Homo sapiens: one gene and its partners. The protein of the gene in region 2 interacts with the protein of the main gene of each other region in a biochemical or structural test. Each region holds a gene or a part of one and is shown on either strand. Other genes may lie near its edges.

Region 1 (7,024 bases), on a different chromosome or scaffold from region 2:
CTGCCACACAGGATCCCGAAGGCAAGCCGAAGAAGACACACATCCAAGACAACCATGACGGCACGTATACAGTGGCCTACGTGCCAGACGTGACAGGTCGCTACACCATCCTCATCAAGTACGGTGGTGACGAGATCCCCTTCTCCCCGTACCGCGTGCGTGCCGTGCCCACCGGGGACGCCAGCAAGTGCACTGTCACAGGTGAGCCCGCCCGCTGTTGGCCGCTGCGGCGCTCGGCACGGGGCTTGGGTTGTGCCTGTGTGCAAGGGCTCGCTGCTTGGGGCGGCGTGTGGGAGTGGGGGCCGCCCCCTTGAGTGACTCACCTGACCTTTCTCCTTGCTCTCTGCCCTCTCACCTCAGTGTCAATCGGAGGTCACGGGCTAGGTAAGCTGCTTGCTGGGGCCACTCCCAATGCCCCTCCTGCCCAGAGGGGCAGCTTCCTTTCCTCTTGGGGCCGATTCCCAGGACAGTTCCAGCTGCAGCTCTAGGCAGGGACAGAGTTGGGTGGGGTGCAGAAGATGAGGCCGTGGGCTGGAGGGCGAGGGCCCAGGGAGGCTTCCGGAGCTGAGCATGACCGCTCCAGCTCTTCCCCTCTCTGGGCCTTTATTTCCCCATCTGAGAACTCGGGTTGCAGCTGAGAGCTTTGGGGTGAGGTGCATCCTGAGAGGCACCCCACTGGGGACTTTGGGGTCTCGGGATCTTGGCACCCAGGGAGGCACAAGGGCTCCTGCGTGGGCTGAGGGAACAAGGGGTCTCCCCAACTCAATGGGAGCCCCAGCCCTGGCCAGATCCACAGACCCCCATCCCCACCTTCCAGGGGCCTCTGCGTCCCGGGCCGGGGGAGGTGCATGAGCGGGTGGGGCTGGCTGGTAGTGCAGTAGCGCCAGTGTCGACTGCTTGGGCGGCCAGCATGGCGGGGCCCGGCCCAGCCTCAGAGCCCCAAAGTGCATTCTGTGGCCCGTCTCCCTCCTTCCCCCTTCCCCTATCCCCCAGCAGTGACGTTATTCAGACATTCCCCAACAGGCATGGAGGGTCACCTGCCCCAGCCAGGGACACCCAGGGATGCTGATGAGAGGCTACAGGCCTGGCACTTGGGCGAGGTGGCTAAGGAAAGGGTGAGAGGGTGGCTAGAGTTTTGCGGCAGGAGCGAGATGGCTTTATAGAGCAGGCCGTAGGATCCGATGTGTGTGTGACAGGCGTGTGTGCGCAGGGCGGGGGAGGCTGGGGAGTACTGATTGCAGGGCCTTGGGGGCTTTGAGGGTGGGAGCAAGACTCAGTAACCTCAGTTTCCCTGGCTACTGTTTGCAGAATGGAGACAGGGAGCCCGGGGTGGGGAAGGGGGCGCTGAAGTTGCTCTCTGGCAAGCTTGACGGCCACGGGGCTTCAGTGAGAGCCAAATTAGGAGGCATACTTTGAGGATGGAGTGGCTGAGACCTGCGGTTGGCTGGGAGCCGGGCAGGGAAAGTGGGGGCAGTCGGGTACCTGTGAGGTTGGGGCCCAAGCCACTAACTAGATGGCATGGGGTGCACATGAGTGAAGCCTCCCAGGGCAGCGTGGGCAGCCGGCAGCCAGGTCTGGAGCCTGGGAGAGCTGCCTGGCCGCGGCAGGCCAGCATGGAGCCTAGTGCAGCAGGAGCCCTCGGCCGATAGTGGGACTTGGTGGCAGGGCCCCTCGAGCTTGGCCTTCAAGTAGGTTTCGTGCTCCTGGCTGCTTCCCTGGCAGGAGGCCAGGCTGCAGGGGGCACTCTCACTGCCAGGCCTCACAGCCCACAGCCCCCCAAGCCTCCACGGCGGAGACCCAGATCATAACGTCACTGTCTCTCCCCTTTCCTCGGGCACTCTGGGGCCCTGGAGCCTGCTCAGCTGCTCTGCCCTCGCAACCCAGCAGTGGTGGCTGTAGCTTGGGCCTCCTGTTCCCTGTCTCCCTGGGTGCTATCCCCGCTCTGCCAAGCCTGCTGCGCTGCGCTACTCGGGTGCTAACCCCGCTGCCTCCCGCTTCCCCGCTCCCACTCCTGTCTGCACCGGGCTGCTTTTCACCGCGAGCCTTCTCAGTTGTCAGGAAACTCCGGTTTCACCATCAGGCCTGGGGGGTGGGGAGGCAAGTGTCACATCCCCCCACGCTGCAGCAGGACTCCGCCTCACCGCGTCCACACACAGCAATGGGGGCCGGGGCCAGGCCAGAAGGGCGCAGGCAGCCGTGTGCCCAGCCAGATGCTGGCGTTCAGCAGTGTGGGCCATGGTGCTGGACGAGGCTGAGTAGGCAAGGGAGTGGCTGTCAACACTTAGGCTGGAGTGGGCCCTTCCTTTTCCTCCCAGGCACCTGGGTGCTACTGTCGGGCCTCTCCCACATGGGCACTTGAGGTGGTCAGGAGAAACCTTCCTGCCTTCTGAGAAACCACTCGCCATCCCAGCTTGGAGGGGCAGGGCGGGGCAGGAGGCCTGGCGGCCTGGCTGTGCTTGGTGGTGGCAATGAGAGGCCTGTGTGGGCGGCAGGCGGACGGGAACAACCTGAACCCGAGCTCACACGCTGGCCCCCCTTTGGGGACCCACCCTGCCCCACCAGGTGCTGGCATCGGCCCCACCATTCAGATTGGGGAGGAGACGGTGATCACTGTGGACACTAAGGCGGCAGGCAAAGGCAAAGTGACGTGCACCGTGTGCACGCCTGATGGCTCAGAGGTGGATGTGGACGTGGTGGAGAATGAGGACGGCACTTTCGACATCTTCTACACGGCCCCCCAGCCGGGCAAATACGTCATCTGTGTGCGCTTTGGTGGCGAGCACGTGCCCAACAGCCCCTTCCAAGTGACGGTGAGGAGGGGTGGGGGGTAGGTCAGCAGGGGTGTCTGGCAGGTCCCGGCCTGTTCCCCTGGGGCCCCTCTGTGACAACAGACTCTCCAGCAGCTCTCTGCTTTGCCCTGCAGGCTCTGGCTGGGGACCAGCCCTCGGTGCAGCCCCCTCTACGGTCTCAGCAGCTGGCCCCACAGTACACCTACGCCCAGGGCGGCCAGCAGACTTGGGTACGGCCTGGCCAGCTAGGGACACTGGGGCTAGCCAGCTGGGTGTTCTGTGAGCCCCTAGTTTACCATGTGTGAGGAGGGACCCCAGATCCTCCCACTGTCCCTCACCCATGCCCTGTGTCTCCACTGCAGGCCCCGGAGAGGCCCCTGGTGGGTGTCAATGGGCTGGATGTGACCAGCCTGAGGCCCTTTGACCTTGTCATCCCCTTCACCATCAAGAAGGGCGAGATCACAGGTGAGTGGGGACTTGGGAAGGAGCTCGGGAGCCAAGGAGGCCAGACTGTGCCAATGAGCTGCCCTGACCTCAGCCCCACTGCCCCACAGGGGAGGTTCGGATGCCCTCAGGCAAGGTGGCGCAGCCCACCATCACTGACAACAAAGACGGCACCGTGACCGTGCGGTATGCACCCAGCGAGGCTGGCCTGCACGAGATGGACATCCGCTATGACAACATGCACATCCCAGGTGGGCCTGCCCTGCCTCTGCCCACTCCACCGCCACCACCTCACAGAGAGATGGGGCTGGGGGACACACGAGGCTGCCATTCCACAAGGCCCTTCTTCCTGCCTCAGGAAGCCCCTTGCAGTTCTATGTGGATTACGTCAACTGTGGCCATGTCACTGCCTATGGGCCTGGCCTCACCCATGGAGTAGTGAACAAGCCTGCCACCTTCACCGTCAACACCAAGGATGCAGGAGAGGGTGAGCAATAGCTCTGGTCTTGACCTGCTCTGTGCCCGGGATGCCCTCACCGGGGTAAGGGCTGGACTCAGGAGATACTCCTGAATGGGGCTCCCTGCCCTGCTGCCCTGGCCATCGGAGCTCCTCAGTGCAGGCCAACTGGAGTGTCCCCAGCATAGTTCCCATGCTCACCCACGGCTCTCTCCAGGGGGCCTGTCTCTGGCCATTGAGGGCCCGTCCAAAGCAGAAATCAGCTGCACTGACAACCAGGATGGGACATGCAGCGTGTCCTACCTGCCTGTGCTGCCGGGGGACTACAGCATTCTAGTCAAGTACAATGAACAGCACGTCCCAGGCAGCCCCTTCACTGCTCGGGTCACAGGTGGGTGGCACTGGGAGCAGTGACAGAAACGGGTGGCAGGGTGGGCATGGTCTCCCATGGCTGGACGCACACTGATGGCTGGCCTGTCCCCACCAGGTGACGACTCCATGCGTATGTCCCACCTAAAGGTCGGCTCTGCTGCCGACATCCCCATCAACATCTCAGAGACGGATCTCAGCCTGCTGACGGCCACTGTGGTCCCGCCCTCGGGCCGGGAGGAGCCCTGTTTGCTGAAGCGGCTGCGTAATGGCCACGTGGGTAAGCGGCTGAAGGGTCCAGGGGGTTCAGAAAGGAGGCAGCCTGTGGGGAGCCATGCCCTCCCTGACTGACAGCCATGCCCTGTGTCCAGGGATTTCATTCGTGCCCAAGGAGACGGGGGAGCACCTGGTGCATGTGAAGAAAAATGGCCAGCACGTGGCCAGCAGCCCCATCCCGGTGGTGATCAGCCAGTCGGAAATTGGGGATGCCAGTCGTGTTCGGGTCTCTGGTCAGGGCCTTCACGAAGGCCACACCTTTGAGCCTGCAGAGTTTATCATTGATACCCGCGATGCAGGTAGGCAGTGGCTGCCCACCAGCTGGGGCGGGAGCACTGTGCATAGCACCGAGGCTCAGGGGTATCCATCCCCTAGGCTATGGTGGGCTCAGCCTGTCCATTGAGGGCCCCAGCAAGGTGGACATCAACACAGAGGACCTGGAGGACGGGACGTGCAGGGTCACCTACTGCCCCACAGAGCCAGGCAACTACATCATCAACATCAAGTTTGCCGACCAGCACGTGCCTGGTGAGTGCAGCAGTGCCTCGGCAGCCCCCCTCACTACACCAGGGCCCACAGGCAGTATGTGACTGGAGGGGCGTGGGCCGTGCTTTCTTCCTGCAGGCAGCCCCTTCTCTGTGAAGGTGACAGGCGAGGGCCGGGTGAAAGAGAGCATCACCCGCAGGCGTCGGGCTCCTTCAGTGGCCAACGTTGGTAGTCATTGTGACCTCAGCCTGAAAATCCCTGGTAGGGGCTGTGGGAAGCCTGGGGAGGGGTCCTGGGGCTCAAGCAGCCCCAAGAGGAGGGGTGGAGCCCAGGGCTGCTGCTCACTAGCCCATCCCCACCCTGCAGAAATTAGCATCCAGGATATGACAGCCCAGGTGACCAGCCCATCGGGCAAGACCCATGAGGCCGAGATCGTGGAAGGGGAGAACCACACCTACTGCATCCGCTTTGTTCCCGCTGAGATGGGCACACACACAGTCAGCGTGAAGTACAAGGGCCAGCACGTGCCTGGGAGCCCCTTCCAGTTCACCGTGGGGCCCCTAGGGGAAGGGGGAGCCCACAAGGTCCGAGCTGGGGGCCCTGGCCTGGAGAGAGCTGAAGCTGGAGTGCCAGGTAGGCCTGCTCACACCCCGAGTGCTCGCTCTCCTGCGTTGGCCAGGGTGGGGTTGGGGGTGGAGGAAAGAGCCGGCAGGCATGTCTACCTTGGCTATGCCTGGAGGGGGCCGAGGCTGGTGAAGCAGCCTTCAGTGAGGACAAACTGTTCTCCCACAGCCGAATTCAGTATCTGGACCCGGGAAGCTGGTGCTGGAGGCCTGGCCATTGCTGTCGAGGGCCCCAGCAAGGCTGAGATCTCTTTTGAGGACCGCAAGGACGGCTCCTGTGGTGTGGCTTATGTGGTCCAGGAGCCAGGTACTGGGAACCCGGCTGGGGTTGGAGGAGGTGGGGCCTGAGTGTGGGTATTGGACCCAGGGCTGGCACAGATAGCCCTGCCTGGCACTCACTCTTCACTTTGAGGTCACAGGGCCACCCAGGCTGTTCGTGGGAGGTGGGAGGCCCAAAGGCTGATGAGCCGGTCTTACACTCTTTCCCTGCCCAGGTGACTACGAAGTCTCAGTCAAGTTCAACGAGGAACACATTCCCGACAGCCCCTTCGTGGTGCCTGTGGCTTCTCCGTCTGGCGACGCCCGCCGCCTCACTGTTTCTAGCCTTCAGGTGAGGCACCGAGAGAAACCGCCCACCTGGGGCTCCTGGGCCCGGACAGACCAGAGCCACCGCAGAGACCAGGCCTTGGCCCTGTGTTCAGTGACCCCCCTGGCCCAGCTCTGGGTTCCAGGCCTCTGCTCTGGCCGGGTGCAGCCCACGCTTGGGGTCGGCAGGAAATATCCTGCCCACCACGTGGAGTTTTTCTCGTGTCTCAGGTCTAAAGGCTTTGAACAGAAGCCTGTGCCCCTTGAGCACCAGGGCTGCGGTTTAAAGAGGGACAGCCTGCCAAGGCTGGGTGCTGCCCACAGGGTGGGGCAGCCCTCCCTTCCTGCCACCTGGGTGTGTGCGACGGCAGAGTGTGGGGGCAGGGGCGGGGATGTGCGCCTGTGGCTTGCTGCCCCTTGCAAATCAGTGGCTCTCCCTCTTTAAACCAAGTTGGACGCCAGATGGGTAAGTGCGACCCGCGGGCCTCTTGCTCCTGGGGCCTTTCCGTCCTCCCTTGCCCTGGCTCAAGCACCCCCATCTAACCATGTCTGCTGTGCTTCCAGGAGTCAGGGCTAAAGGTCAACCAGCCAGCCTCTTTTGCAGTCAGCCTGAACGGGGCCAAGGGGGCGATCGATGCCAAGGTGCACAGCCCCTCAGGAGCCCTGGAGGAGTGCTATGTCACAGAAATTGACCAAGGTGAGGCCCTGTCCCTGCCCGGCCGCCCTGCCCTGCTGGCTGGAAGCAGGCTGAGAGTACAAAAGGAAGGTACCGCTTCTGTAAGCAGCCAAGACGGGGCCCCAACTCCTGGGCCCCCTAAGCCAGGCAACCCTTTCCCAATTGGTGACCCAAGCCGCTGGGGATGTGGCTCGCCACCCACAGCTATTAGGAAGGCCTTCTACCCTGCAGTACCATGCCATCTCCACAGGGAAAGACTCAAAGTCCAGCCTCAGTGCTGCCCGGCCCTTCAGCCACGGCCATGGTACTTGTGCACAGG
Region 2 (7,024 bases):
TTTCCTCTAAACTCTGGATAATTATTATTCATTCTTATGACAGCAACTGTGTAATCAGCTGTCGAAACACTGTGAAGGGCAAAAGAAAGAAAGCCACAAAATATTGTGTTTCTGTGCCAAGATTTTACAGCGAGCAAGGGAGAGTTAGAAAAGGAATTCTGAGATTTCAGAGTCTTGGTCTCTTCACCTTTGCTTGGAAGAAAATATCCTTTCCCTTCATTAGCCAACACTTTCTTGATCCTGAGAGTAGGAAAGGGAACACTGAGTCTTTTCAGTTGAAGGCCGTCCTTGCCTGCTGGACTTTGATCTATTGAAGTGGTGATGGGTGTTGCGGTTTCAGCCATAAAGGCATCTGGCATAGTAGGCAAGAAGGGCCAGAGACCCGAGGAGAGTTATCTGTCTCTGTTAACTTCAGTGTATCCCTCTAGTTCCCCAGATGCACCTGTTTCTGTAAATATAAACATGCATGTCATCAGAACACTTAATATTCTGCATACTGATCATGACAACAAAATGTACCTTCTAACACAGACACTCTCACTAGGATAGACCATGTAGGAACATCGAATTCTATTCAGTTAGGACAGTGATGATGTCTACATATTATACCTCTGTCAAAACCTACAGAATATACAACACAGCACAGAGTGAATTCTAATGTAGCCTGTGGACATTAATGAATAATAATGTATCAATATTGGCCCATCAGTTGTAACACTAATATAAGATGTTAATAACAGGGGGAATTGAAGGGGTGGTGGGGAGATATGTTGGAACTCTTTGTGCTTTCTGCTCAATTTTTCTGTAAACTTAAAACCGCACACACAAAAAAAGTTATTTTAATTTTTTAAAAAGTATTCAGAGGGACTTGACCTTTCCAAATTCTCTCAAAGCAGGTCGGAGTAGTTAAGAACACAAATTTTAGAACCAGACTGCCAGAGTTTGAATCCTGGCTACACCACTTACTAGCTTTGAGATTTCAGACAATTTACTTAACTTCTCTGTCTCATTTTCTTCATCTGTGTGATAAGAAATAAAGTAACAGGCCAGGCCCAGTGGCTCACGCCTGTAATCCCAGCACTTTGAGAGGCCAAGGCGGGTGGATCAGGAGTTCAAGATCAGCCTGGCCAACATGACGAAAAAATACAAAATCTCTACTAAAAATACAAAAATTAGCTGGGTGTGGTGGCAGGCACCTGTAATCCCAGCTACTCAGGAGGCTGAGGCAGGAGAATTGCTTGAACGCAGGAGGTGGAGGTTGCAGTGAGCCAAGATCATGCCACTGCACTCCAGTCTAGGCAACAGAATGAGACTCCATCTCAAAATTAAAAAAAAAAAAAGTAAAAAGAAAAGATAAGAAATATAGTACCAGCCCCTATCTCAGAGTTCCTAGCTTAGAAAAATTCCCAGAATATAATAAGTGCAATGTAAGGGTCAGCTATCTTCATTATTATTATCTATCATAAATGAAATTACACAATAAAGCTAGATCCGTTTCTTTCCTCTCCTTCTACAAAAAATAAAGCAACTTTCCAGAACAATACCCAGGTGATGATTTCTCCCCTGCTCCCTCCCTAAGATATTGGCAAGTTTGGAGGGTTCAAGGAGAAACAGAGCATGTAGAGAAGATACCTCTCTCATAACCATTTGTGATTTACAAGTCTTACCTGATTCTTTTGAACTTAAAGGATGTAAGAAGGCTTTTGGTAGCTTCCATCTGATTCAAGGCTTTGGCAGCTGCTGTGGAATACATGAGAACACTAGGTAAAGCACTGTCTTCCAACATGAAGAGAGAAAAATATGTGGAATGTTCAATGGCATGCTTTGTATAAGAATGCAACTTACCTGGCAGGAACAAATTTCTTTGCTGCAAAAGAAAAGACAAACAACCATTAATTCAGACTAAATGACTTTTAAGGATATATTAAATCCAGATACAATATGACTTAATTCATCAAGTGTTGCAAACTCGATGCTTCAGGGCCTCTGTAATAATCAGAGCACAAGCATGGCTCTGTGGCATCTAGGGTAAAATGCAAAGTGCACAGCCATCCAAAGGGCATAGCAGCTTCCTAATGCCAGCAAATAGCTACGGGGTCATCTTGCCCAATTCAGCTCCCAATTTTTCATGAGAAGTCCAAAGTCTTAATTTAAATGTGAGATTTCCTATTTTGTAAACGTCAGAACTTAACTCAAAAATGTTTTAAGTACTCTTAAACATGTAAGCCAAACAAACCATGAGTGTAGTCAGATGTGCTTCCATATTCCTTATGAGAGACTCTCAAATTTAAGCCTGTACTCCAAATAAATCTCCTTAGGAAGAATTTTATCCATTTTCCTTAGAGTGCTCATCATGGCAGTTCCATTGCACAATTCCGGGAGGCATCATATAATTCAACATGAATAGCACCCCCTGGAGTTGTACAATATTAGGCACGACTAACATTTTTATTTCCTGAAACACTTCCCACACTGAGTTGTACTACTAACTCTTTTCTTAATACTTCTGCTTAATTATACTGCATTTTATCCAGATTCTAATTATTGTTTAAATCAGTAAGCAAGACCATGACTTATCAATGAGAAAGAAATGTATTTTCAAAAACATTTTTGAAGTACATTCATAAACTTCCTCACCTTTCCGTAAGCATTTCCGAAGCCAGAGGAGAAATGGTGCTAATGTCAGGAGGGAGAGTCCAGCAGCAGAAAGTCCAGCTACCAAGGGAATGTTGGACTCAGTGGGAGCTAAGGAAGTAAGAGACGAAGAAAGGTCATGAGGAAGAATTGATGTTAAAGTCTCTCCGTCCTGTCCCTTTGGCCTTTTTTCTGTACATTCATTACTAGGAGCAGAAGAGCTATCTAGTTTAATACAAGAAGCAGAGATGTGGCATTACAGGCCTTTGAGATCTGCTCCAAGCCACCTTTGAAGCTATTTCCACCATTGGCAGGCAGAACTCTAACTTGCCAAGCTCGTTCACAATACCACACCACACCTTGGTTAATAAACACTGCACTTGCTTGCTCTCTTGCTCTCACTCCCTCTTGTTTTCCATTTCCCCTTTCTCCTCTCCTCTCTCTGTCTCCTTTTTCCAGTTGTCAGAATTCTACCCTTTCCATCAACATGCAACTTCTGTTTTTTCTCTATCCCCATACAACTTAATATTCACAACTTGTCAACCTGGGCGAACTTTCTGGTTTGGATATAATGAATAGTTGATTACTGTAACAAGATAGCTCCCCCTTTTTCTTTTTAATCACCAGACAACCACCATCAATCAATGCATCACCTTCACAGGTAGGTAGCAGGCCAGACCAGTGTCCTGTGGCTCCACATGTCCGAGCTGCAGAGCCATTGAGCGTCCATCCTTCAGGACAGGCGAACTTGCACACAGTGCCAAACACGGGCTCCCCACTGCAGCTCATGTTGATCTTTCCCGGAACTGCCAGGCTTGAACATTTTACCACTGCAAATGTTAGGTACACAGGCAGAGTTTCAGAAAAATCTACTGGAAAACTTCCAAAACTTGCTTAAAAGTCAACAATGAATGTAAAGTGTAAGCGCTACTTAGTTTTCAGCATGTAGGAAATTAGGACCAAACCCCTTTGGGGCAATCTAGGTTCAGAAACTTTATGAAGTATTTGACCTGTACCCTAAAAAAGTCTGCACTCAATTCTACCTTGGCAGGAAGGAACCTCTTCTGTCCATTGTCCCTGAGATGTGCACTCAAGTTGAGTTGATCCATGTAATTCAAATCCCTCCTCACAGCTGAAGGCACAAGAGGACTTGTAGGTGAATTCTCCAATAGGGGAATGAGCACACCTCACCAAACCCTTCGGGGGCTGGTGGACAGCATCGCATCTCACAGCTGGAACACACGAGAGAGCACTTTAGAAGTTTGTTTGCATCTCCAGCAATACGTTTCCCAAGGTAACCAAGTTCCCAAGCTCTTCAATAGTTCTTTTTATCTTAAAATAAAATAAAAACAAAGACTGTACCTTCACATGTGGGCTTCTCGTTGTCCCACTCCCCTGTGGGGCCACATTGGAGCCTTTTGGATCCCTTCAACACAAAACCCTGCTCACAGGAGAACTCACAGCTGGACCCATAACGGAAACTGCCAGAAGCACTAGGAAGACAATTCATGTAGCCTCGCTCGGGGTTGGACAAGGCTGTGCACTGGAAAGCTGAGACATCAAAATGATGGTCAGAAAATATTGCAGTGGAACTAGAGAGTACTTGGCGTTTGTTGAGTGAACCCAGTTCATTCAAGCAACACTTGGAGAACTGAAGATTCTTTATAATTCCCTGGACAAATGGGAAGATGGCTGTGTTTTCTTTGAATTTCAGCCCCCTCACTGATCATGGCACTAATTAAAAGACTAATTAATCAGAACATTAGTTCCTGAGCACTGTTCTTCTAACACACAAAATAAATTATGGTCCAAGGAAAGATTTCACGCAGTCTGAGGACAACATATGGGTCATGGATGTTTATAGATGGTGCCAAAAAGAAAGAAAAGAAAGCACCCCTATAAAATTTGTCTGTTTTGCAGTTTGGTTTTTGTGTTATGTTTTGCTACTGGAAATCATTCTGTGCTGGCTTTGGCTAGGACAAGGCCAGTGCCTGATAGTAAAAACTGCTTGTTTTCAATATCCTTGCTCTCACTTTAAAGTGAATTAAAATTTACTGCTTATATATGCATCAATACTATCTCTGTAGCTGACACCATGCTTGAAACAGTCTCATCACTGCTAATTATGAGCCATTTCAGAAGACAGGTGTGATGAGAGTTTTACATTCAAATCATGTTCTCATTATTCTGCTTTCCGAATTTTCTAATATGATTCCTTTAGATTAAGAATTCTGTCTATTCCATGCTAATGTCTACAAAGTTTTATCAGCACATCACAGTTAAAAAAAAACAGCAAAGAATTCATTCTTAACACATATGATCCTTTCCCTGGCCAAACATTAGTTCTTTTAAATGAATCTCAAAGATACGAGGGTTGCTCATCAAATCTGATTTCTATAGTTAAAGTGGGTATTGGTTTTTTTTTTCACTGTCCAAGTTTGAAGATGGTTGTTCTTTAAGAAAGTATAAATCGAAGGATCTCAAGCTTACCTTCACAAACTGGGATTTGCTGTGTCCACTGCCCTTGAGTGGTGCATTCAACCTGGGCTGGTCCCTGCAACATGAAGCCTTCCTCACAGGTGAAGTTGCAGGATGATTTGAAGGTGAACTCTCCAGCAGGGGAATGGCTGCACCTCACAGAGCCATTCTGAGGCTGGCGGACGGCCCTGCATGTCACAGCTGTAACAAATATACGCATTGATATTAGCACGGCCTAGAATTAGCTTGCCCATTTCCAGTATGGGTTGAGAGAAAGAATGTTCACAGTAAGTCTCCATGTGGAACAACTCTACCTTTACACGTTGGCTTCTCGTTGTCCCAATTCCCAGATGAGGTACACTGAAGGCTCTGGGCTCCCATTAGTTCAAATCCTTCTTCACAGTCAAATGTACAGGTTGTGTTCCATGGGAAGCTTCCAGGGTTTTGGAAACATTCCACGAACCCATTGGCTGGATTTGTCACAGCATCACACTCAACCACTGAGGATTTTAAAGAGCACCATGAATTTTACAGAAGAATGATCTTTTCACTTCCTATTGAGCTGGGTGCCTAACAGAGTGAGGAAGCTGCCTTCAAAGGGTAGATCCCAAAGTCCTATGTCAATTCTTAGGGACATGCACAGCCAGAATAAAAGCTTTTATTCTTTTTCATGGATATTCTATCTTTTCTGATTTCCACTTTGCCTATGCTGAGTGGTCTCTAATCTATGTTATCATTTACGTGAGGTAAAAATTTAAAAAAAATAGATTCCAGATTAGGAGTTATGACTAGTACTGACATACGTAGGCTATTCATTTATTTTAGCCCATCAGAGCCTGAAGAACTGATTTTTCTTTTTTTGGCCTCTGGTTCAGAAAGATAAAATTAAGAGAGAAAAAGAGATACTAAGACTGCTTGACTATCATGGTCTTAAGTTAGTCCCATGGCTTGGAAAAGTTAAACAGGGAAACAAGATGAGAAATCCATTGAGATTTCTAGAGCTTTATTGTTTTATGGTCTCCCTTACAAATCACCAGAGCCTCAGAAACACCCATTTCAAGCATAGAATAAAAAAACCTCTCTCAACCCAAGCAGGTACTGGGTTGGCAATATACATTGGCTGAGAGAACAAATTGTATTAAAAACAAAAACAAAAAAAAAACTTTCCCTGAAGTTTTGAAAATGTAAGTTGAATCAAAAAACAGAAGCAATGAGGGATGAGTTACAGAACGTTCTGTGCATTCTCAGAGGGATTTACCATTGCAGGCTGGAATAGGAGCACTCCATTCTCCAGAGGACATACACTGCATGGTCTCCATGCTGCTTGGCAGGTAACCCCTATCACAGCTGATAGAGCAGGAAGAATTGTAGCTGAAGTTTCCCAGTGGGTGACTGCAAACCAGGCTTCCATGCTCAGGGGATTCCAGGGCTGTACAGTTCACAACTGAAAAAGAAACCCAAATCAGTTCTGCTCATCTCTCACCTTTAACAGATAAGAACACTGGAAACTAGAACTACAGTTTGGTTTTTTTTTTTTTTAGTTTAAAAATTTATAAAATTTCTAATGGAATTTGTAAAATTGACTGTAATTCTACCCCTTTTCTTTTATTCAAGAAAATGCTGATCCATAACAACAACAACAAAAAAGCAGTGATGACAACCATAAAAAAGAAATATTGAGTGATATGGGGAGAGTAGTGTAATTGTGTTTACCTCAAAACTGTTCAAATTATATGAACAAACACAGCAAACTTAGGTACCACAACAAATTTCTTGTTACTTTTCTCACAACTGCTAAAAATACTACAGTAAGCTTCCAACCAGGATGAGAACCATTCACAAAGCTATATTTCAAATTTAAGTACTAGAATACATTACAAATTTTAAAACCCTAATGCTGCACTGTCTACTA
Region 3 (6,952 bases), on a different chromosome or scaffold from region 2:
ATTTTTCTGAGACAGGATCTCACTCTGTCACCCAGGCTGGAGTGCAGTGGCATAATCTCAGCTCACTGCAACCTCCACTTGCCGCTTTCAAGTGATCTTCCCGCGTAAGCCTCCTGAGTAACTGGGACTATAGGTTGCACCATTATGCCCAGCCAATTTTTGTATTTTTAGTAAAGGCCTGACCTCAGGTGATCCACCCGCCTCGGCCTCCCAAAGTGCTGGGATTACAGGTAGGTGTGAGCCACCATGCCTAGCAGGCCTTCATTTTGAATGCTTATTCCCACCTCCTTAGAATCTTGAACTAGTTATTAATGTCTGATTTTGGAACACTTAGAGTCCTCTTTTCATGGTTGCACTTGGGAGGCCGAGGCAGGCAATCACCTGAAGTCAGGAGTTCGAGACTAGCCTGGTCAACATGGTGAAATCTCTCTCTACTAAAAATACAAAAACTAGCTGGGCGTGGTGGCAGGCGCCTGTAATCCTAGTTACTTGGGGAGGCTGAGGCAGGAGAATCACTTGAACCCGGGAGGCAGAGGTTGCAGAGCTGAGATCATGCCATTGCACAGCAGCCTGGGCAACAAGAGTGAAACACTCCATCTCAAATAATAATAATAATAATAATAATAATAATAATAATAATAATAATAAAAGAACAAATTCTCAACAGCCCAGGTGCAGGGCTGACACCTGTAATCCCAGCACTTTGGGAAGCTGAGGTGGAAGGATCACTTGAGCTTGGGAGGCTGAGGATGCAGTGAACATGATCATGCCATTATATTGTAGTCTGGGTGACAGAACAAGACCCTGTCTCAAAAACAAAAAAAAATACTAAAATTACAAAAAAAAAATAATTAGCTGGGCGTGGTGGCACACACCGGTAGTCCCAGCTACTTAGGAGGCTGAGGCGGGAAGACTGCTTGAGCCCAGGAGGTTGGGGCTGCAGTGAGCCACAATTATCATGCCACTGCACTCTAGCCTGGGTGACAGAGGGAGACCCCGTCTGAAAACAAACAAGGAAAATGCTCATGGCTGGGCCCGGTGGCTTATCCCTGTAATCCCAACACTTTGGGAGGCCAAGGTAGGTGGATCCCTTGAGGTCAGGAATTCAAGATCAGCATGGCCAACATGGTGAAACCCCGTCTCTACTAAAAGTACAAAAACTAGCCGGTTGTGGTGGTGCACGCCTGTAATACCAGCTACTTGGGAGGCTACAGCAGGAGAATCGCTTGGACCCAGGAGGCGGAGGTTGCAGTGAGCTGAGATCACAACACTGCACTCCAGCCTGGGTGGCAGAGCAAGACTCCGTCTCAAAAAAAAAAAAAAAGAAAATGTTCAACAGATACCTGCTTGATGAATAAATTAAGAAAGTGAGGATCAGGAAACAAAGGATACAATAAAGGGTAAAAAGAACTCCCCGTTTCTTGGCTGGGCACAGTGGCTCATGCCTGTAATCCTAGCACTTTGGGAGGCCGAGGAGGATGGATCATAAGGTCAAGAGATTGAGACTCTCCTGGCCAACATGGTGAAATCCCGTCTCTAAAAATACAAAAATTAGCTGGGCATGGTGGCGCACACTTGTAGTCCCATCTACTTGGGAGGCTGAGGCAAGAGAATTGCTTGAATCCGGGAGGCAGAGGTTGCAGTGAGCCGAGATCGCGCCACTGCACTTCAGCCTGGCGACAGTGTGACTCCTCTCAAAAAAAAAAGAAAAAAGAATTCCCCGTTTCTGATAGAGATAGTATATGTTATATTGAAAAGGCAATGAGACCAGAAGACCTGAGTTAAGGCAACTGTCTTTCCGTGGGTTTGGGGGCTCGTGGCTTCCGTAAGGTCTACGCTTGCCTGACAGCCTGAGCTGGCCAGGTTCCCAGATTTATCTGTTTCTTGCTTCTTGGTGACTGAGATTTCAAGATAGCCATGTGTACTCCTCCCTATCTCTGGAGGCAATCTGTGGCTGTGGTTTCCTCAGTTCAGGCTGAAAGATAAGTAACTGATGGCTTATCTAGGATTGTCAATTTCTAGTTAAACTGGCTTAAAATAATCTCCCACTTGTCTGAACACATGCAGACTCAGCATTGAAAATTAATGGAGGCCAGGCGCAGTACCTCACGCCTGTAATCCTAGCACTTTGGGAGGCTGAGGTGGGCAGATCGCCTGAGGTTTGGGGTTCGAGACCAGCCTGGCCAACATGGCAAAACCCCGTCGCTACTAAAAATACAAAAATTAGCTGGGTGTGGTGGCACATGCCTGTAATCCCAGCCACTCGGAGGCTGAGGCAGGAGAACTGCTTGAACCCAGGAGGTGGAGGTGGCAGCTCCGAGCAGAGATCACGCCACTGCACTCCAGCCTGGGCAACAGAGTGAGATTCCGTCTCAAAAAAAAAAAAAAAAAATTAACATACGCTAGTGACATCTCAAGGACTTCTGGTGATGTGTCCAGCCTGCCTGACTGAAACTTACCTATGCCATGTGTTTGCTAATAAACATGGGGCTGCCTTAGTCAGTGCTCAAGGTTAGCAGCAGCCTCATGATCATTTTATGACAGTAGCAAAGGTGACCGTTGGTGGAGATGCCAACAAGCTCTCATTCCCCATGATAGAGGCCTGGGGTCAGCCACAGTGGGTAATTTGTACTCACAGAATATCTTCAGTCTCAGGAGCTCCTTTTGGGTTCCCTGAGCTCCTGACTTTTCAGGTTCTAGTTATGTCTAACTTGGTCTTGACTGCTCATTTGCGGGTCAGGACAGCAGAAGCTGTCTGTTTACTACAGTAGATGTAATTCGCATTTTTGGACACAATGACCAGTGGAGATTACACAACCCAAACTGCCCTCATTCCCCAACATGTGCATGGACAGAGTGGGATGAAAGTGCGCCAGGGTGGTGGGAAGCCCCAGGGATTCTGGTGGCTAGCCTAGCTGTCTACAGGATGGCAGAGTTCCTCTTGGGCAGCTCATTTAATCCCTCCACGCAGAACTGTTAACATCTCTGTGCCATTCTTCAGTTAAATGAGAACCTAACGCAGGCCTGATGCATGGCTCAGATTACACAGCGGATGTGAAGAGGCTTTGGGAACATATCCTCTCTCCTAAGGACAGGGAGGGGATGCTAGTGTGGGGTGCCTGCGGTGTTGCATGCAGGTCAATGAGAACAGTTACCGACACACAGACTTAACCCGAGTCCTCAAAGATGTGTTTTATTATTATTTTTTCATCCTTTAAACATGAATCTAAATGCTGGCTTAAAATCAGGATTCATGCATAAACGGCTTCCCAGTTTATTAACAATACTGGCTGTGACTTTTTGAGTTCAGTGTTGTGGGCCAGGCACTTAAATTATTATTTCGAATCTTGCCAATGGTACTTTACATTTGAGCTCTTGCGTACCCTGCCAGAGCAAGGATTATAACCTTAATTTTTTTTCTTACCCCAGAACTTATGCTCTTAACCCTATTCAATGCTGTCTCTCTCTTTGGCTAAGAAAGACTTCTGAGGCAGATGGAAGGAAGGAAGGAAGGAGGGAGCGATACAAGGAGAGGCTTTCCGATTCCGTAATACACCTGGTTGTGCAAAGTTCACCTCTACATATAAAGTTTTTGTTTTCCAAGTCATTGAACCGGCGACATATTCTACCGGCCATTTTGGTTGTGGCAACCCCAATTCCCTTGATTTTTTTTTTTGTGACAGCAAATGGAATTAGAGTAGGCCGCCCTGCCCGGGCTTTTTAAGAAACCCCAGCAACCCCCCCGGGTAAGGAGCGCCGCTCTCCCGCCCGCCGGTCCAGGGTGTGTGCGGTTTCCAGCACGGCCTCCTCCTTCGCCCCACTCTGGGTTCGCGGGTCGGCGCCGGCGGGGCGGGGCTCGGCAGGGCCACGCTGCCACGCCCAGCGTCTCCACCCCCTCATTTAAATACGCGGCGCCGGCGAGTGCGTCGAGCTCGCCGCGGACTCAAGATGGCGGCGTGTGGACGTGTACGGAGGATGTTCCGCTTGTCGGCGGCGCTGCATCTGCTGCTGCTATTCGCGGCCGGGGCCGAGAAACTCCCCGGCCAGGGCGTCCACAGCCAGGGCCAGGGTCCCGGGGCCAACTTTGTGTCCTTCGTAGGGCAGGCCGGAGGCGGCGGCCCGGCGGGTCAGCAGCTGCCCCAGCTGCCTCAGTCATCGCAGCTTCAGCAGCAACAGCAGCAGCAGCAACAGCAACAGCAGCCTCAGCCGCCGCAGCCGCCTTTCCCGGCGGGTGGGCCTCCGGCCCGGCGGGGAGGAGCGGGGGCTGGTGGGGGCTGGAAGCTGGCGGAGGAAGAGTCCTGCAGGGAGGACGTGACCCGCGTGTGCCCTAAGCACACCTGGAGCAACAACCTGGCGGTGCTCGAGTGCCTGCAGGATGTGAGGGAGGTGAGGAGGTGGGACGAAGCCGGGAGGGCCAGGCCTGGTGCGGGCCCGAGGGTGTTGCCGGCCTTGGAAGCCGCTGACGCCGGTCGGCTGCTTTCCTTGCTTCCTCTGTGCTGCACTCGCTCCTTCCCTCTTTGCTCCTCACTCCCAGGCGCTTTCAGGGAAAAGGATACCACTCCCACTCCTTCTTTCCCCCGCCCTTATTTCCCTCCCTGTTGCCGGGGTCTGGGACGAAAACCTGGGCTCCTGGCCGCAATCCGCCGAGGCCCAGAGCGTGTCTGTTCGCTCCTGTCTTTTGTGTGATGCTCTATGCAGAGTGTCTCCTCGCCGAAGATCAGTTTAGGATTTTGCCATCAGTTTCGACTAGGACAATTTGTGGCAAGCCATTTAAACATAAAAAAATGCCTGGCGTACTTAGGCTGTAAAGAATGATCTGTTTATTAGCAGTAGATGTAATTCGCAAATCCATATTTTTGGTGCTGAAATTAATGTATGCTTTGTTTTCTTCACTTCCTTTGGTCAGTTGTATTGAACCCCATGTTTAAGCTGTTAACTCCCAGTGACTTGGCGCCCCAAAGCTTGAAAAGTTGGGGAAGCGTTTGAAGCTGTGTTTGTGACTGGGTTATGGGATCTTGCCTTTCTGAGGTCTGAATGTGATTTTAACAGTATCTCTTAATGAAATCTACATTTGTCGTTGCTTGGTGTGATTCAGTTGAGTGACATTGATAATTTATAATCAAGTGACATTGATAATTTATAATCTAGGTTTAATGCTGCAGACCATAATGACAATTCTCAAAGTTTGGGAGCAAATCTGACAGTAGTAACTTTTTCCAGAGGTGTAGGTATATAAAATTAGCCCTAAAGGTGGACAAATAGAATGAAGCTACCACTTGATACTGTTTTTGGTTTTTTTTTTAAATATCAGATTTGTTTAAGGCGTTCAAGCTATAGCAAGACCACTTGCTTGTAGAAATTTGCTTCTCTTGGCATTTCCCCCCTTCATCTCGTGTTCTAGTATTCTATACAAAAGCAATTCAGATAGAGGAAAAGACATACATAAGCAGGAGACAGAAAGAAAGGAAGTTTCCAGAGCCCCTAGAAATGTGAGGCCTTACCTGACTTCTCATCTTCAGCTTAACGACTAGAGGGATAGTCCTCTGGTAGATACAGCTAATATTCCTAACTCTGTCGAACTTTTTGGAATTTTCTTTTCGCTCTTTGAGGACACATAATAGATGTCGTTTCATCAAACTAGGATCCTAATACTGGTGACCAAACAATTAGTAGTAGTTTGTGGTAGAAACAGCACATTATTAGGGAAAGTGGCAAAAAGTGGCCTATTCAAGGAGTGTATATATCCTTCATGTGTATTCCGGACATTTGGAAACCTCCACTTAAAGGAGGCAGTTTTATGCTCCAGAGGAGGAAAGGCGTCATATAAATTGGAAATGGGGGTTTTGGGGGGTTGGGGGGAGGTGGAGGGACCAAATTTCCAATTTAATGTTTTTTCCTCCAGTTTTTACATACAGAAATAATGAAGGAAGAGTACTGTGAACACCTATGTGTATTCTTCAGGAGGTGGAGTTATTTTTAAACTTCTTTTCTTTTTTTTGAGATGGAGTCTCACTCTGTCGCCAGGCTGGAGTGCAGTGGCTTGAACTTGGCTCACTGCAACCTCCACCTCCCGGCTTTAAGCAATTCTGCCTCAGCCACCTGAGTACCTGGGACTACAGGCGAGCGCCACCACGCCCAGCTAATTTTTGTATTTTTAGTAGAGACAGGGTTTCACCATGTTGGCCAGGATGGTCTCGATCTCCTGACCTTGTGATCTGCCAGCCTCGGGCTCCCAAAGTGCTGAGATTAGTGGTGTGAGCCACCACCCCCACCCTATTTTCTTTTTCTTTAAAGACAGCGAAAGGAAATTTCATTCTGCTTAGTCTGGGAGTTAATTAAATCTGATCTATGTGTTTGAAAGAGCATAACTTAAAGAAGTAAACTAGTTAGGCACATTTGAAGAAACATGTATAGAATATGTTTTGTATTTGCTGTTCAGTAAGTAGAACTATTTGATAGTGAAATAGATATATGTACTTTTCTGTCCCTTTGCATGCAAATGCAGGGAACATTTTCCTATCCGTACCCATTATTGGAATTATGAAAAGGCAGAGCATATGAGTACAGTTGTTCCTTGGTATCACTGGAGGATGGTTCCAGGCCTCCTGCAGATATTGAAATCCAAGGACGCTCAAGTACCTTATACCGTATAAAATGGTGTCGTATTTCCATATCATCTGTGCACACCCTTCCGAATTCTTGTCTTCTCTAAAATACTTGTGATACCTAGTACAGTGCCTACATATCAGTTCATTCATGTGGATTCACTGTAGTACTTGGCATATGTCAAACTTAACTTTTGCTTTTTGGAACCTTATGGAACTTTTCTTTCTGAAAAAAAATTTTTTATTATGGAGACAGGGTCTCGCTCTGTCATCCAGGCTGGAGTGCAGTGGTGCAGTCATAGCTCACTGCAGCCTCAGTCTTCTGGGTTTGAGAGTTCACTGAAGCC

What was found. Proteins that work in one complex are often made in the same cells at the same time.
Region 1: the proteins of SELE (region 2) and FLNA form a complex in vitro, tested with the Homo sapiens proteins (one study listed by BioGRID).
Region 3: the proteins of SELE (region 2) and GLG1 form a complex in vitro, tested with the Homo sapiens proteins (2 studies listed by BioGRID and IntAct).

The regions. Positions count from the first base shown.
Region 1 is NC_000023.11:154,350,611-154,357,634, reverse strand, and holds part of FLNA (filamin-A), read left to right. Parts: intron 1-11; coding exon 12-201; intron 202-360; coding exon 361-384; intron 385-2,562; coding exon 2,563-2,810; intron 2,811-2,923; coding exon 2,924-3,019; intron 3,020-3,151; coding exon 3,152-3,254; intron 3,255-3,343; coding exon 3,344-3,484; intron 3,485-3,591; coding exon 3,592-3,720; intron 3,721-3,907; coding exon 3,908-4,081; intron 4,082-4,177; coding exon 4,178-4,339; intron 4,340-4,430; coding exon 4,431-4,634; intron 4,635-4,710; coding exon 4,711-4,863; intron 4,864-4,959; coding exon 4,960-5,082; intron 5,083-5,187; coding exon 5,188-5,454; intron 5,455-5,613; coding exon 5,614-5,751; intron 5,752-5,938; coding exon 5,939-6,054; intron 6,055-6,593; coding exon 6,594-6,726; intron 6,727-7,024. UniProt on the Homo sapiens protein: Promotes orthogonal branching of actin filaments and links actin filaments to membrane glycoproteins. Anchors various transmembrane proteins to the actin cytoskeleton and serves as a scaffold for a wide range of cytoplasmic signaling proteins.
Region 2 is NC_000001.11:169,724,062-169,731,085, forward strand, and holds part of SELE (E-selectin precursor), read right to left. Parts: intron 6,557-7,024; coding exon 6,371-6,556; intron 5,613-6,370; coding exon 5,427-5,612; intron 5,314-5,426; coding exon 5,125-5,313; intron 4,186-5,124; coding exon 3,997-4,185; intron 3,867-3,996; coding exon 3,678-3,866; intron 3,465-3,677; coding exon 3,288-3,464; intron 2,746-3,287; coding exon 2,638-2,745; intron 1,868-2,637; coding exon 1,846-1,867; intron 1,741-1,845; coding exon 1,683-1,740; 3' UTR 1,668-1,682; intron 449-1,667; 3' UTR 1-448. UniProt on the Homo sapiens protein: Cell-surface glycoprotein having a role in immunoadhesion. Mediates in the adhesion of blood neutrophils in cytokine-activated endothelium through interaction with SELPLG/PSGL1. May have a role in capillary morphogenesis.
Region 3 is NC_000016.10:74,604,091-74,611,042, reverse strand, and holds the start of GLG1 (Golgi apparatus protein 1 isoform 3 precursor), read left to right. Parts: upstream 1-3,928; 5' UTR 3,929-3,948; coding exon 3,949-4,386; intron 4,387-6,952. UniProt on the Homo sapiens protein: Binds fibroblast growth factor and E-selectin (cell-adhesion lectin on endothelial cells mediating the binding of neutrophils).